Linked DNA regions of Homo sapiens: region 1 is linked to region 2. Evidence: fine-mapped expression QTL. Tissue or cell type: whole blood. Region 2 holds a variant in brackets; the other region holds the start of a gene. All regions are shown on one strand. Distances are between the middles of the regions.

Evidence for each region. PIP is the estimated chance that this variant, and not a neighbour inherited with it, causes the effect.
Region 1: it holds the start of TMEM87A, and the variant in region 2 is fine-mapped to the expression of TMEM87A in whole blood (INTERVAL, PIP 0.93).

What each region holds. Positions count from the first base shown.
Region 1 is chr15:42,268,477-42,276,583 of GRCh38, reverse strand. It overlaps TMEM87A (transmembrane protein 87A), which reads left to right and starts at 3,151. Exons shown (of 20, transcript NM_015497.5): 1 at 3,151-3,329; 2 at 4,461-4,521. The coding sequence starts at 3,186. It overlaps GANC (glucosidase alpha, neutral C), which reads right to left and starts at 3,383. Exons shown (of 24, transcript NM_198141.3): 1 at 2,074-3,383; 2 at 174-236. The coding sequence starts at 2,102. RefSeq lists enhancers at 1,990-3,189, 3,162-3,391, 3,552-3,801.
Region 2 is chr15:42,235,660-42,243,768 of GRCh38, reverse strand. TMEM87A (transmembrane protein 87A) reads left to right here. Exons shown (of 20, transcript NM_015497.5): 8 at 4,038-4,099; 9 at 6,154-6,337; 10 at 7,350-7,449. Among named protein-coding and RNA genes, the nearest start is that of VPS39-DT, 31 kb to the right of the region's middle. The variant G/AAG (reference allele first, on the strand shown) is at 5,020.

The sequences.
Region 1 (8,107 bases), 33 kb before region 2:
TACTTCAGGAGTAAATGTATAAAGTTAAAAGTGAGTCTCCTGTCTGATGATTTCCTTAATTATTAAATTATCCTTTCCTTGGAAAGTCTATCAGTTCCAAAAATTTAATAAGCATCAATTTTGAAATACTGTCAGAGATGTTTTGATCTAGCTACTATATTTATTTTCCTTACCTGTAAAATGCGATCTTGTTACAGTCTCTGAAAATGTTTTTATCTACAGCTTCATCTTCAAGACTAAATAAAAAGACATTTTGAGAAATTTATTTCACACAGGGCTTGTGAATCCAACTTTTGTACCTTCTCTAACGACAGTATGAACATGCAAAATAAACCTTTGGAGTCTATTCTGCAATGCAAAATTGTGTCACGGCCACAGTATAACATAATAGCACATTATGTTGCAGAACAATAGCCTTTTGTAAACCCTCTGAGGTAAACAACAAAACATCAGGTTCTGGGATTACTCCAAAAGTAATGGGAAAAGATCACTGTCACTTATGAGGACATATTCTTTTGAAATAATGACTGAAGGCTATGACCACAAAAGTAAAATCTGAAGGAGGAAAACCAAAACAGCATCCCAAAACGAACAAACCAAAACCAACCAACCAGACAAACTAAGAACCATAACCCACCCACCGATTTATTCAAGAAAATATTTTCAGAATATTCTTCCTGAGAGCTGGGCTCTGAGGAAGATATGAACTGTGTTCAAGCTATCAGTTAGGGTTTTACCAGCAATCACAATACAAGCTGACAAATGCTTTAATAGAGGTGCAAGGTGCTAGAATAAGAACAGAACAGACGTAGAAGGGGAATTTCTTGCTTTTTAAGATGAGGTGACAAACTAGGGGCCATGTTTTTTAAAACCAAGTTTCCAGAAGAGCTGTTTCTGGGATAAAACATGAATGAGATATATGTATATTGAAGTTTGAGTATATGTATTTAAACTAGCCTCCATCTGATTAAAACAACTACAGATTATAAGGAGAAAAAAAAATTACACCGGCTTTCATGCACTAGTGTGGCCGAATGCATCTGTAGTCAGCATGTCCATGATTATGTAGAAAGCTATGACTGAACACAAACGTCGAAATATTATGAAAACAAGCCCAGGCAGATATACTTGGCCATACTAAAAAACTGTTTGTCCTTCACTGAACTCAGTCTTTGTCCGTTTATTTTAATTTATTAAAAAAATTTTTTTTGAGACAGGATCTCGCTCTGCCTCCTACGTTGGAGTGAAGTGGCACGATCTTGGCTTGCTGCAACTGCCGCCTCCTGGGCTCAGGCTATCTTCCTGCCTCAGCCTCCTGAGTAGCTGGGACTACAGGCCCACATCACCACGTCTGGCTAACTTTAAAATTTTTGTAGAGACAGGGATTCAGCATGTTGCCCAGGCTGGTCTGAACTCCTGGGTTCAAGCAATCTGCCCACCTATAGGCCTCCCAAAGTGCTGGGATTACAGGCATGAGCGAACCGGCCCAGTTTATTTTAATCAAGTGTACAAAGATTGGAGAATCTTTTGTTTCCTCTTTACAGCTTCGAAGAATTAACTCTGGGATGATATAGGAAGGGGTGATTATAGATGAATTTGGAAAGCAACATGCCTGAAATTCACGTGTTAAGAGTTCTGATTGCAACTTTTCCACTGTTAATGTTATTTAACCATCCTTTTTTTTTGGAGACAGGGTCTCACTTTGTTGCCCAAGCAGTGGCAAGATCACAGCTCCACTGCAGCCTCCAAATCCATCCTCCCAGTGGTCTCCCAAGTAGCTGGGACTCCGAGGGGGCGGGGAGGGGGTCTCGAACTCCTGAACTCAAGCGATCCTCCCACCTTAGCCTCCCAAAGTGCTGTGGGATTACCTGCGTGAGCCACTGCACCCGGCCTATTTAACCATCCTGAAAGTATTTTATGAGAGGCTATTAATATCAACTAACTTCCCGCGAATTGAGAGAAAAGATAAAGGTCAGCAAATACCAAATACGCAAATAAGAAATGCAATTAAAACACTATTCCCTGTTTCTAGGGACCCTGGGGTCACTCGCTACAGAAGCACTTGGCCTTTACCTTATTTCCTCTTTCACTGCTGCTTCCATGGCTTCTCTGTCACTCCGACCAGCTCCCAGCTCTCAGGACAAGGGCCCTGGGCGATCTTTTAAAAAAGCCGATTGGGTGTCTTTCTAAAATTACAACCAGTACTTCATCGTCAAGTTTCTGGGAAGGGAGTCCCCTCCAGATTCTCATGGAGTGACAAATCTTGACTCTTGCTCCTGGAATTTTTCAGGCCCAAACTAGCGTTTCTACAATGATTTATTTGGCAAATTTGTCTTGATTATGGGTGGCTGATGAGGAACGTGCTTTTGTTAGGAACCGAAACTGGGCGGCGGTGAGGGCGTGTACGCAATGAGTCCTAGAGGGTAAAAATCAAGAGCGTTAAGAACCTGGAAATGCCGAGACGGCCTCCCTGACTGGGACGAAGCATCTGCAGATCTATCTCAGTGGCGGGGTCACGCCACAGATTTTGAAAACTGACCCTCTCTGTCTCCGTTTTCGGTTAAGGGTGGGAAGTGCCGGCCGGGTCTTTGCTGGAGGCTAGGTCTCCAGCCAGATTGTACTGCAGCATCGTACTCTTCAGGGCTAGAAGGGGCCTTTGAAGGTTGTTACACTACCCAGTCTAGGAATCGCGTGTACTCCACCACCGCCGAATTCCAGCCTTTGCTTAAATACCACCCAAACCGGAGAACTCACTACTAGACGCCACTTGGGCAGCCAGGCTTAGGGCTTTTCCAGACTTTCTGGCCCCAAAGTCTGACATTGACTTAGAAGGGATGAAGGGCTGGGGCGAGCGGAAGTAGAGAGCCAAATCCTGCACGGGGTGCCTGCCTGGTCCTAAAACCTTTAACGGCTGGGAGACAGAAAAGACTCAGGCCAGGCTGGCATGTAGCGATCTCTCTAACCCAGCTGACCAGGTTCCAACAGGATGACGCCTGCGCAGTAGGTCCAAAGTCTCACGGCGCACAGACGACTGTCTGAGAGAGGGGCCGCTACGCCGCACAGCAAACAAGCTCCGCGACGTTTCCAGGACCCGGATAATCCCGCCCTTAGAGCAGAGCCGGAAGAAGGCGGGACGAACCGGAAGAGGGTGAAATGCTTTCGGTAGGCACTCCACGGCTGTGAAGATGGCGGCGGCTGCGTGGCTTCAGGTGTTGCCTGTCATTCTTCTGCTTCTGGGAGCTCACCCGTCACCACTGTCGTTTTTCAGTGCGGGACCGGCAACCGTAGCTGCTGCCGACCGGTCCAAATGGCACATTCCGATACCGTCGGTGAGTATTCACTTCACTAACGTCTGAACCTAGAGGAGCAAGGGGTGGGGCTACGGCGGCCCAAGGGGTCCATGAAGGTTCCGCAAAAGTCTCTTCAAAAGGGGTGGGGTTGCTGGGATGGTCTGTGTGGCTAGCCAACTGGGACCCACCTCCCTGGAGTGGAAAGCCGCGCACTTCTGTGATTAGGCTAGCGGGAATGTAAGGGCCACTTCAGCAACAGAAAGGAGTGGTGGAGCGGCTTCTCATCAGAAAAACAGAACTTTCAGTGCCTGACTTGAGATGTAAACTTGATGTACAAACGGAGAGTTGTTTATCTTTCAGATGTTTCACAGAATCCAGTGTCCCCGGGTTGGATAAGAAAGATATGTAAATAGGAGTCTTCATTTCTTTCTTTCTTTTTCTTCCTCTGCACTTCTTGGTCCCTGGGTAATTCTGCTTACGAGATGGTTCGACTTCGCTTCAACTTTGGAATGGCTATTCTAAGCTTTACTGTGTGACTAGAAAGCATAGAGATTTAAGAAATGTGTTTTAACATGGGAATGGTTAAAATTGAAGAAATAGTACTTAAAATTTAATGTGGTAAGGCTAGTCTTTCATTTGGATAATTAACTACATGGGTTGACCCTTTCTGCCCCTTACCCATTTTAAACCTTATTTCAGTAACAGGTATAGTCCTGTGAGCAGACAAAAACCAGATGCAGGGAGGAAATGCTGAAAAGCATTAGCCCCATTAAACCTACGTTGGCCTTTTTGTTTCATTCTGCTCTGCTCACTGACTGTAATGTCCAAATCTTATTTGGGCTTTTATTATGGTAAACGTTATACCTTTTGTTCAGTGGTGAAGATTTTCAGGTGTTCAGTTAGGTTTTTACTTGTTACTAAAATGGTTAATAGTTAAGTCTTTTTAGATTTGAAAATAAAACTCTGGTTATTTGCACACAGAATAGTTCATTAGAAAAAATGATTGGTTATTCTGAGCAGTGATTGGTGAGTAAAGGGAATGAACTGATTAAGGGGTACGTCCCATAAAGATTTAAGTTAAGTTGGAATTTCTAGCAGTCTTAGATAGTTATATGATGCTTTGGTAATTGAAGCCATCTGAGGCTAATTATCTTTCCTTTATGTTTGCAGGGGAAAAATTATTTTAGTTTTGGAAAGATCCTCTTCAGAAATACCACTATCTTCCTGAAGTGTGAGTTTTTGAATTTCATGAAGTTTTAATTTGAATTTTAAAAATTTATAGGTAATGTTTTAAATTACCTATTTTATAAGTTCTGAAATCTAATAGTCTGGCATTATCTAGGTATAAATATTTTTAGTATTACTAAGGTCCTTTTACTGAATCATCTTCAAAGTACTCGTGTGAACTTTATTTTCTTCTCTTGTTTTTCTGGTGTTTACATTGCATATATACACTATGTAGACATTATATATTAGTATATATAATGTATATATTAATATATATGCTGTATATACTACATTGAATATTCAGTCACATCTCAGTCGAATTACATTTACAGTTGATACTTTCTGAGAAAAGCATCCTTAGGTGATTTTGTCATTATGCAAACATCATAGAGTATACTTAAAACTGGATGGCACTACACGCCTAGTTTGTATGGTACAGCCTATTGCTCCTAGGCTATAAACCTGTATAACATGTTACTGTACTGAATGCTATAGGTGGTTGTAACACAATGGTAAGTTTTTGTATATCTAAACATAGGAAAGTAGAGTACAAATACGATATTACAATTTTATGGGACCCCCGTTGTATATGTAGTCTTTCATTTACTGAAATGTTATGTAGTGAATGACTGTGATTATGTTGGGGTTGATTCCCTGCATGGTGGTTTTAATCTGTTCTGTGTAGATTAAAGAGGTTTTACTCTTGTGTGCTTGTTAAATGTTTACTGCAAACATGACCTAGGTTTGTCAGGCCGTTGGCTGTGAAGGAATATATTTAGTAGATCCTTTATTTACAAAAGGAGTATTTTACTGCTTTGGAAGAGGAAGCTCAGATATTATCAAGAAATAGGGATTATGTAGAACAAAACTAGTTTGTCTAGTGGAAAAATGACTGTATCTGAATCTAAAGTATCCCATTGTGTGTTCAGTAAAAGCTTCCTTTTAGTTCTGAAACCGGCTTTAATTTAGAGAACGATTGATCGTGGGCAGCTTTATTTCTAGATGAGGGATAAAAATCCTGATGATAGATGTGTGATTCTATGCATACTGTCTTCACGGAAGTGCAAAATTTTAAGTCATAGTTGGATAATTTTATTCTTTTCAATTGTTTAGTGAGTAATTATTACTTATTGCATAGACTGTGGGGAAGTAATAGAAAAATGTTCTTCCCTCATCGAGCTTACATTCTAGTGGGAGTGAAAACAGCAGGTAGAATTTCTCTGAAGAATATATACTGTATCCATGAATATGTAATCAGTCTCCTGACCAGTGACTTATATTTGATTTAGATCAAATCTACTCTGACACTGGCCTTGTGAGATTGGTTTACTGGGTAACCTAGTAACCCTTGTCTTTTGGAATAGCTTGACAGCCTGTTTGCTGTTTTATTCTTTTATTAGGTCCAGTCTTTTTTTCTCGTGTAGTTTGATCTAGTGGTGTTTTGCCAAGTTAAACCAACTGCATTTTTTTTAAGATGGTGTCTCACTCTGTCACCCAGACTGGAGTGCAGTGGTACGATCTTGGCTTACTGCAACCTCCACCTCCCAGGTTCAAGCGATTCTCCTGCCTCAGCCTCCCGAGTAGCTGGGATTACAGGCATGAGTCTCTATGCCCAGCCCTAACTGCGTATTTTGAAGTGTTTATATTTCATTGTTTTTGGAGGATTTGAGGCACTTTATTTTTTGTTGTTGTTTTTTGAGACGGAGTTTTGCTGTGACGCCCAGGCTGGAATGCAGTGGCACGATCTCGGCTCACTGTAACCTCTGCTTCCTGGGTTCAAGCGATTCTTCTGCCTCAGCCTCCCGAGTAGCTGGGACTATAGGCGCGTGCCACCACGCCGGCTAATTTTTGTATTTTTAGCAGAGGTGGGGGTTTCACCATATTGGCCAGGCTGGTCTCGAACTCCCGACCTCAAGTTATCTGCCTGCCTTGGCCTCCCACAGTTCTGGGATTACAGGTGTGAGCCACCGTGCCCGGCCTGAGACACTTTAACATTATCTTTTTCTTTGTTATTTCTGTGCTTTCTCATATTTACCAGTTGTCTTTGATTTTGTACTTTTTGGGGGATGGTATATAGCTTTCCATGGAATAGCTGGGACCATTTTTTTTTTTTTTTTTTTTTTTGAGACGGAGTCTCGCTCTGTCGCCCAGGCCGGACTGCGGATTGCAGTGGCGCAATCTCGGCTCACTGCAAGCTCCGCTTCCCAGGTTCACGCCATTCTCCTGCCTCAGCCTCCCGAGTAGCTGGGACTACAGGCGCCCGCCACCGCGCCCGGCTAATTTTTTGTATTTTTAGTAGAGACGGGGTTTCACCTTGTTAGCCAGGATGGTCTCGATCTCCTGACCTCATGATCCACCCGCCTCGGCCTCCCAAAGTGCTGGGATTACAGGCGTGAGCCACCGCGCCCGACCTTATTGTCTCTTAAAGCCTTTCATTTAAAGTTCTAAATATTGTCTTGTAACATAAACAGCAGTATTTTTGCTGCCAAATTTCCTTACAAGTCTCCTGTTTGGGGGATGTGTTCTTACTGGCTTTTTATTAGTTAATCCTGTCCCTGTATGGATTATTTTGAATAGTTCATAGCCCAATTGCTTTTTATCATTTCCATAAATTCTATCCAACAGGTCAAATTTTTGAACATTCTAATAGAGTCCTTTGAAAATGTGTTGGTCATCTAAAAATTAGTTTGAGAAAACAGTTTAAAAGAAAAAAAAAGGAAGCTTATAATTAGGTTGCTTCTTTTGTTATGAATGAAAAGTAGATTCCTAAATGCAGTCATGTTTATTTTTGTCATGTTTATTATTACATTTATATAAAGTAGGGAGTCTTTAGTATATTTTTCCTTTCATAGCTAGAATCAAAGATAAAAGCGAATACTGACTTCCTCCAGCTAATCAGTCATATAGTCAGATTTACCCTCCCAAGTCTTCAGAATAATGTCTTGATCCATTAGAATACTGTGTTCCAAACTGTGTTTAATGAGCTTTATGAAGCTTCCATGATAACATGAGCTTCCTTGAGGCCTCTTTTAAGGTAGGCTTTGAAAAAAAAAATCTGATACTCTTATCTTTGCTTTTGCTATTTCTACCTTCCACAGCCATGTTTGCTTTTCGTTCATTGCTCTTTCTGTTCTATCTTGATATCTTTCAAGGTCTGAGATAGCAATTTTGCTCTCAGTGGAACTATTATGTATATCATCATTTAACACCATTTAACAGTTGTTAATATTGCCTTGTGACATGCATTCCTAATTTTATTATTGCTTGTCTCTTCAACTAGCCTTTTGAAGGGTCTTAATAATTTGTTTCCACTCGTTTCCCTCTTTAGCCTAACAGTGTGCCATTATACCTTTGTAATACTTGTGCTATTTATTTATTTATTTATTTATTTATGTTTTTTGAGACAGGGTCTCGCTCTGTCGCCCAGGCTGGAGTGCAGTGGTACCATCATGGCTCACTGCAGACTTGACCTCCTGGGCTCAAGTGATCCTCCTGCCTCCCTTGCCTGAGTAGCTGGGACTACAAGCATGTACCACCACGCCTAGCTTTTTAATCATTTTTTGTAGAGATGAGTTCTCACTATGTTGCCT
Region 2 (8,109 bases):
GCAGGCAGATCACATGAGGTCGGGAGTTTTAAGACCAGCCTGACCAACATGGAGAAACCCCGTCTCTACTAAAAATACAAAATTAGCTCGGTGTGGTGGCACATGCCTGTAATCCCAGCTACTTGGGAGGCTGAGGCGGGAGAATCGCTTGAACCCGGGAGATGGAGGTTGTGGTGAGCCGAGATCACGCCATTCCACTCCAGCCTGGGCAACAAGAACTTTCGTTCTTGTTCTCAAAAAAAAAAAAAAAAAAAAATTAATTAACATTGGTAGTTTTTAATGTCTCAAGAATTTAAGTGTTCTCCTTTCCAAGGTTGCTGCCTAGTTCATAGAGTCATCATCTTTTACGTGGAATTTCCAAGAACTTCCTAACTGGTCTTATTTCCTGTGGTTTCCCCCTTGTTTCTTCTTTGTGTTTTTGCAATTTCCTTTCCTCCCCTGCTTTCTTTTTTTTTATTTATTTATTTATTTATTTATTTATTTATTTATTTATTTATTTTTGAGATGGAATCTCACTCTGTCGCCCAGGCTAGAGTGCAGTGGCGTAATCTCGGCTCACTGCAAGCTCCGCCTCCTGGGTTCACGCCATTCTCCTGCCTCAGTCTCCGAAGTAGCTGGGACTACAGGCGCCCGCCACCACACCCAGCTAATTTTTTTGTATTTTTTAGTGGAGACGGAGTTTCACCGTGTTAGCCAGGATGGTTTCGATCTCCTGACCTTGTGATCCGCCTGCCTTGGCCTCCCAAAGTGCTGGGATTACAGGGGTGAGCCGCCGTGCCTGGCCCTTTCCTACCCTGCTTTCTTAAGCAGAATATGGAATAGAAACAATGATGGCAGCCACCGTTACTTCGCTCCTGACTTTACTGGCTGTATTGGTATATTTCACCATTAAGTACTGTGTTTACTGTAGAACTTTTGAAATATTCTTCATTTGGTTAAAGATGTTCCTTTCTATTCCTAGTTTAATGAGAATAGTTTCCTTTTTTAAAAAAAATGTTAAGAATGAATACTTAGCTTTATCAAATAGTTTAATTGTACTGATTTAAATGATCATATGGGCTTTCTCATTTAATAAGTTAATGTCATACATTAAATTAACTGATCTTCTAACATTAAATCATTGTTGAACTTCTGGGATACCACTACTTGGTTTTGACACACACACGCATATTCTCTCTGTCTGTCTGTCTCTCTCTCTCTTTCTCTTCCTCTCCTCCCTCCCTCCCTCTCCCTCTCTCCCTGTCCCTCTCCCCCTCACTCATACATGTGTATCCTCCTGTCTTTTTAGGCCCATGACTTTCTAATGGATTATAGTCTCAAGGCACAGTTACCAGTGTTCATTTTCAACCTTCTTTCTTTGAAAAGGCTGGAAGAGAAGCTTTATTCCACCCTACTTCAGCTTCTTCATGCATCCAGCCTGGCTCTGGTCCCTCTTCTTTTTCTTTGAAACCTACTAGCTTCAATGATCCCATGTACTACCGTAGTACATTGGTAGTGTACTTCCAACTACCATAGATCCCATAGGGACAGCACTTCCAACTACCATAGCCTGCTTCTGGCCCAAGAGCCCAACATGATCATGGAGTCGGCCTCGTGCACTGTTTTGAGTTTCTGTTTTGATTCTTGGAAATGTCTGTCTTGTTTTTGAGCTTATATCCTTTTTTGTTTTTTTCTTTTTCTTTTTTTTTTTCTTTTTTTTTTTGAGATAGAGTCTCACTCTGTCACCCAGGCTGGAGTGCAGTGGTGTGATCTTGACTCATTGCAACCTCTGACTCCTGGGTTCAAGTGATTCTGCTGCCTCAGCCTCCCAAGTAGCTGGGATTGCTGGCCTGCACCATCACACCTAGCTAATTTTTGTATTTTTAGTACATTGTGTTTTTACAACCTACTAAATTATTATTTATCTGCTAAATTATTAAATCTACTAGATTTTTATTTAGTAGATTGTATTTTTAGTTTCACCATGTTGGCCAGGCTGGTCTTGAACTCCTGACTTCAAGTAATCTGCCCGCCTTGGCCTCGCAATGTGCTGGGATTACAGGTGTGAGCCGCCGCACCTGGCCTTGTTTTTTCATTTTAAAAATACCCGTCTTTTTTTGGAATGGAGAAGATACATCATCACTAATACAGTTTTATCATTTTTCTTCCCTTCATCGAAACCTTTAATGGATGGCTCCCCATTGCCTATAAAATGACTACATTTTGCAGCAAGGTTTATAAAACTCTTTACAACTGGTCCCAGTTTACCTTTTGCTGCCTTATGTCAAAACACCACTACTATATGGTATTATATGCAGTCTCAGACTATATTTGTTCTTTAAATATACCACACATTTTCACAGCTGTTTTGTTCATGTTATTTCCTCTACCTAGAAGGCTTTTTACTTTGTTCTGGAAAATACATACTTATCCTTCTAGTCTGGCTGAGAGGGATAGTTCTCTACTTATCCTTCTAGTCTGGCTGAGAGGGATAGTTCTCTATGTAGCTTGTCAACTCCCTCTCCCCTGCAAGGTGGTTACCCATTTGATGGCAGAAAACATCTTACTCATGTTTCTGTCTGCTGTGTTTTCCATAGGCCTGTCAAATAATAAGTGCTTAGTAAATGTATATTTTAGCATAGAGCAGGGGCTAGCAAATTTTTTTCTTAAAGAGTCAGGTAGTAAATTTTTTCTCTATTATAACTACCCAACTCTGCGAGGTGGTGCAGAGGCAGCTGTAGACAATATGTAAATGAGTGGATGTGGCTGTGTTCCAATAAAACTTTATTAACAGAAAAAGCTGGTGGCCAGATTTGGCCCATGTGCTATATTTTGCTGACCAAGGCATAGAGTAAGCAAAGAATATGATCCAAGTATTTACTAATTATTTTGTTTACTCTTTTATTGAATTAGGAAGGTATAGATTTAATAATAGTTCTGCTCTGAAATTTTTATAATTGCTCTTATGGAATGCTCTTTTTTTCATGTAAGTATTGGATGTAGTTTACTTTAAATAATGGTATATCAGAAGCTAGTAGGGAATTGTTGAATGAACAGTTATTAGTCTGTCTCTAGGGATGATCACCACTCAAGTCAGATTTTTATTTATTAATTATGCCTAGAATTTATCCAAATTATTTTATCAATACAATAATAAAATAGTCCATCTTGAAATAGTTTTTAAAATTACAGATAATCTTAAAATTAGTCAATGTTTGCTTTACTAAGGCAAATATGTCTTTCAGATATATGTTATTACTGTTACTTTATCTGTCTCATTAAACACTTTGTTATTAACAAATTCTTTGAAAAATGTTAACTAGCAGGTTTTGGGGAAGTTCAATTCTATGTTTATTGGATGGAGCTTTGCCTTGAAGCATCTGAACTTTTGAGTTATTTTTATTTTGGAGTGAGCATCTAGGGTACCTGATTGTGAAGCTAGATTTCAATCTTGTATGAGGGATGGTATATTTTTTTGTGTGAGTTAATTTAAATTTTTAAGTTTTTTTCCAATGCCTTCATTCCGAAAATGATACATGAATGTAGCAATAAAAGAAAATTGGAGTCCATGAAAAAATAGTAAAGCAATAGGAAAATACAGGTGAGGAAAGATAGAAAACAAAGAAGATGGCAATATGTAAAAAGGAAGTCCTGTAAGGCATATTTTACTGATGTGTTGTAAGGAAAAGTATATATGAAGTATGTTTAGAATTTAGAGTATGTGTAGAGTTGTTCCAGATGGGCAGCCAGAGAAGGCTGTGTGGAGGAAATATTCAATCTAGTCTTTTTTAAGATGTGAGTATGGAAACAAAAGAGCCTTCCCACTTCAGACTATGGTGGAGGCATGGAAACCTGTGCAGGACACAGCATGAACTATGAGGACACTTAATGACTTTCCAAGTGCTGTACAAATATAATGTAATATTGACCAGGATTGAAGTGCCTAAAAGTAAATGACCCAATGAAATTCTTACTAAGTTCATTAAACAAATATTAGGCAATATTTTTGTTTAATTTCTGCATCCTGTAAATTAATTCTGAGGACTCTGTTTTGGCAGTGACTGTTGAAGTGAAGGGTCCCTATGAATACCTCACACTTGAAGACTATCCCTTGATGATTGTAAGTGACTTTATATTATTTAACCTCAGTATTGGATGGTTTTGGGTTCAAAGATTGTCCCATGTTTTGTGGCAGTATTCTTTTTAATGAATTGTTCCTGTGCAATTCAGAAAATGTTGCTTGTAGTCCTGGATTTATTTCTTATTAGACTGGGACTTTGAGAGAGTCAGTATACCCTTGTGTGCCTCATTTTCTTATCCATATAATGAAGGGGTCAGTGACCTGTGGAAATACCTCAAAGATCATCTCACATTCTCTCTAGGATGCATAGTGGGGCACTTTTTACTACAACTCTATTGTTTCTGATCCCACTTACATTAACTAAATGAGGCTGGGTGCCCTGGCTCATGCCTGTAATCCCAACATTTTGGGAAGCTGAGGCGGGCAGATCACTTGAGGTCAGGAGTTTGAGACCAGCCTGGCCAACATGGTGAAACCCCATCTCTACTAAAAATACAAAAATTAGCTGGGCGTGGTGGTAGGCGCCTGTAGTCCCAGCTACTCGGGAGGCTAAAGCAGAATTGCTTGAACCCAGGAGACAGAGGCTTCTGTGAGCTGAGATCTTGCCACTGCACTCCAGCCTGGGCGACAGAGTGAAACTGTCTCAACAACAAAAAATTAACAAAATGATGAAGCTCCCTTCTCTTCATTTTGTGTGTGTATGTGTGTATGTGTGCACATACATGTATGTGTGCATACGTCTGTGTCTCAGAATATCCTTAATATATTTTCAATTTTCTTTGTTCATGATTATTCTCTTCTTCCTTTCCCTTTAATAGTTTTCCCGTTTTGTTGTGTTTCCTTGCCTCTAGATGTATCCTAATCATCATGCCATTTTTCTTCTTCAGTGTTGTCTTCATCTATATAATTTTAGATCGTGAGCTGAAATAGCTCCTTCTTTAAAAAAAAAAAAAAAAAAA[G/AAG]AGAGTCTCACTCTGTCTCCCAGGCTGGAGTGCAGTGGCATGATAATGGATAATGGCTCACTGCAGCCTTAAACTCCAGGCTGAAGCTACCCTCCACCTCAGCCTCCCAAGCAGCTAGGACAACAGGCGTGTGCCACTATGCCTGGCTAATTTTTATTTTATTTTATTATTTTTTATCTTGAAACGTAGTCTCACTCTGTCACCCAGACTGGAGTGGAATGGCACGATCTTGGCTCAATGCAACCTCCAGCTCCTGGGTTCAAGCGATTCTCCTGCCTCAGCCTCCTGAGTAGCTGGGACTACAGGTGCGCACCACCATGCCTGGCTAATTTTTGTATTTTTAGTAGAGACGGGGTTTCACCATGTTTTGGCCAGGCTGGTCTTGAACTCCTGACCTCAAGTAATCTGCCCATCTCTGCCTCCCAAATTGCTGGTATTACAGGCATGAGCCACCATGCCTGGCCTAATTTTTATTTTTTGTAGGGACAGAGTCTTGCTATGTTGCCTAGACTGGCCTTGAACTCATGACCTCAAGCAGTCCTCCTGCCTCGGCTTCCCAAAGCACTATTGCAGGTGTGAATTACCACGCCTGACCAGAAAAAGCTCTTTTACTATAGGAGAGCAGGCTGAGTGCTCTCTATATATACCATATATGTGTCTGTGTGTATAATAGAGAGCACCTTTTATATGGTATACATATGTGATACATACATACACACACACACACACACACACACACACACATATATATATATACATATGAGAGCATTCGCTCTTGAGGACAAGTTCATATGTAGTCTTCTCTGCTCAAGACAAGATAATGCTTTCATATTAGTTAATGTTAAGCTCCAAAGGAAGAATTATTTCTTAACTAGAAGGTAGAATATATTTTTGTAACTTGTTAAGACTGTATATTGATTCAGGACAGGCGCTGTGGCTTATGCCTGTAATCCCAACACTTTGGGAGGCAGAGATGGGAGGATTGCTTGAGTCCAGAAGTTCAAGACCATCCTAGGCAACATAGCAAATCCCCATCTCTTAAAAAAAAAAAAAAAGTATATATTGATTCTAAATCTACAGACTTGGCTCTTGGCCCTAATTCTCCTTTTTATCTTTTACCCAATTTGATAACAGTTTTTCATGGTGATGTGTATTGTATATGTCCTGTTTGGTGTTCTGTGGCTGGCATGGTCTGCCTGCTACTGGAGAGATCTCCTGAGAATTCAGTTTTGGATTGGTGCTGTCATCTTCCTGGGAATGCTTGAGAAAGCTGTCTTCTATGCGGAATTTCAGAATATCCGATACAAAGGAGAATCTGGTAAGTAACCAGAAAATCTTTGCCAGTTCGAGTGGTTGGAAGGTGAGATGTATGAAAATATTCCTAAGGTCAGCAGTCACTACATAGGCTTAACTTTTCAATTACTTAATTATTACAATATCTTAAGCAGAATCACTATGACTCTGACTTTTGTTTTTAATCTTATGAGTTCAGTGATGTAAGACTAATTTTACTGAAATATGCTCACAAAAGTCACAACAGTAGTGACCATTTTGGGAATGATTATTAACATCAAATCTCAATTTCTGTTGATTTCTAAGGCACCATTATACATCTAAGAAAAAAAGTAAAGCTGTCAATTTAATTGTAAAATGTCACTGATTGTAAGACACACCTTGATTTAAAAAACCTCAAAATGTGGTGGGAAAGTGCATCTAACTGATAAAATATAGTCATATCAAGAAAATAGGAGAGTGCTTATGGTTTAGTAAGGTGAACTGGTAATGACAGAAGTTGTTTTATACTGTAGTTTTTTGTGATTGCTTCAGTTTTTTCTTGTCAGACCATTTAATTTAGTCATAATTATTATTGTGAGATAAACTGATAAGATTTTCCCTGGTCTTTGAAAGGTCTTGAAAATAGTAGATCTGAAAAAAGTTAAGCTGTACATGCCAACAAGCGTGTACACGAGTGTGTTTTGTGCTTTTCTATGTGTAGCTGTATTTCACAGTTTTTAAAAATGGGGGAAATTGTCTCGATGCTACAAACTGTCCATATAGGGTGAGGTATTCTGTTAAAGTTTTAGTGAATTTGGGGCCAGGTCGGGGAGGGAGCTGAGTTGAGCGCACCCAGATTGCCATACATAGACATGAGTAAGATTGTGAGTGGCATCAGCTTGTATCCTGTAAAAACTGTGGAAGAGGTATTCTATTTTAGCAGGACTAATATCAATGCTTATTCTGAAGAGTGTAGAAAGCAGCAGTCTAGTATTGGCATCTGGCCTGTTGCCAAACCTAGATTATGGTGCCATTTCTTCCCTTCTTTTTCATAGTCCAGGGTGCTTTGATCCTTGCAGAGCTGCTTTCAGCAGTGAAACGCTCACTGGCTCGAACCCTGGTCATCATAGTCAGTCTGGGATATGGCATCGTCAAGTAAGTATTAACTTCCTGTATGGAAGAGCAAATTAAAATGCTGATTAAATTAAAACAGTATTGCATGTTCCCAATGTAGTAGTTCTGAAATAGTTGATAAAAGAAATAATTCTGAAACAAGAAAGGTATTTGAAATTTTGTAGCATTGTAAATGTTGGGAAAATGTGTTTCATTTTCCATACTTCCAAATATATTCCATACTTCCAAATATATTCCATACTTCCAAGTCCAAATGTATTCCATACTTCCAAATCCAAATGTATTCCATACTTCCGAATATATTTCCATACTTCCAAAATATTTTTTGCAAATTAGATTTTTTATGGGAAACGCATTCTTGCTGTAACTGTCTGAAAATATTTTTCTATCCAAAAAATTTTATTTTTATTGAGGAGTGTCTTCTATAGGCATTCTTTGAGGCATTGTTCTAGGCCCTGGGGATATGGCAAGTAAACAGAAGATTTTGAGCTTACATTTGTGGAGGGAGGGGACAAAGACAAAATTTAAGTGGGTAAAATATTTTAATATGTCAGTGGAAAGTGCAGTGGAGCAGGTAATGCAGGAGCTAGAGCTTGCAGTTGTACATAGGGTGATCAAGGAGGGCTTCACTTAATGACATTTAAGCAGAGACTTCAAGGAGGTGAGGGAGCTATATGTATA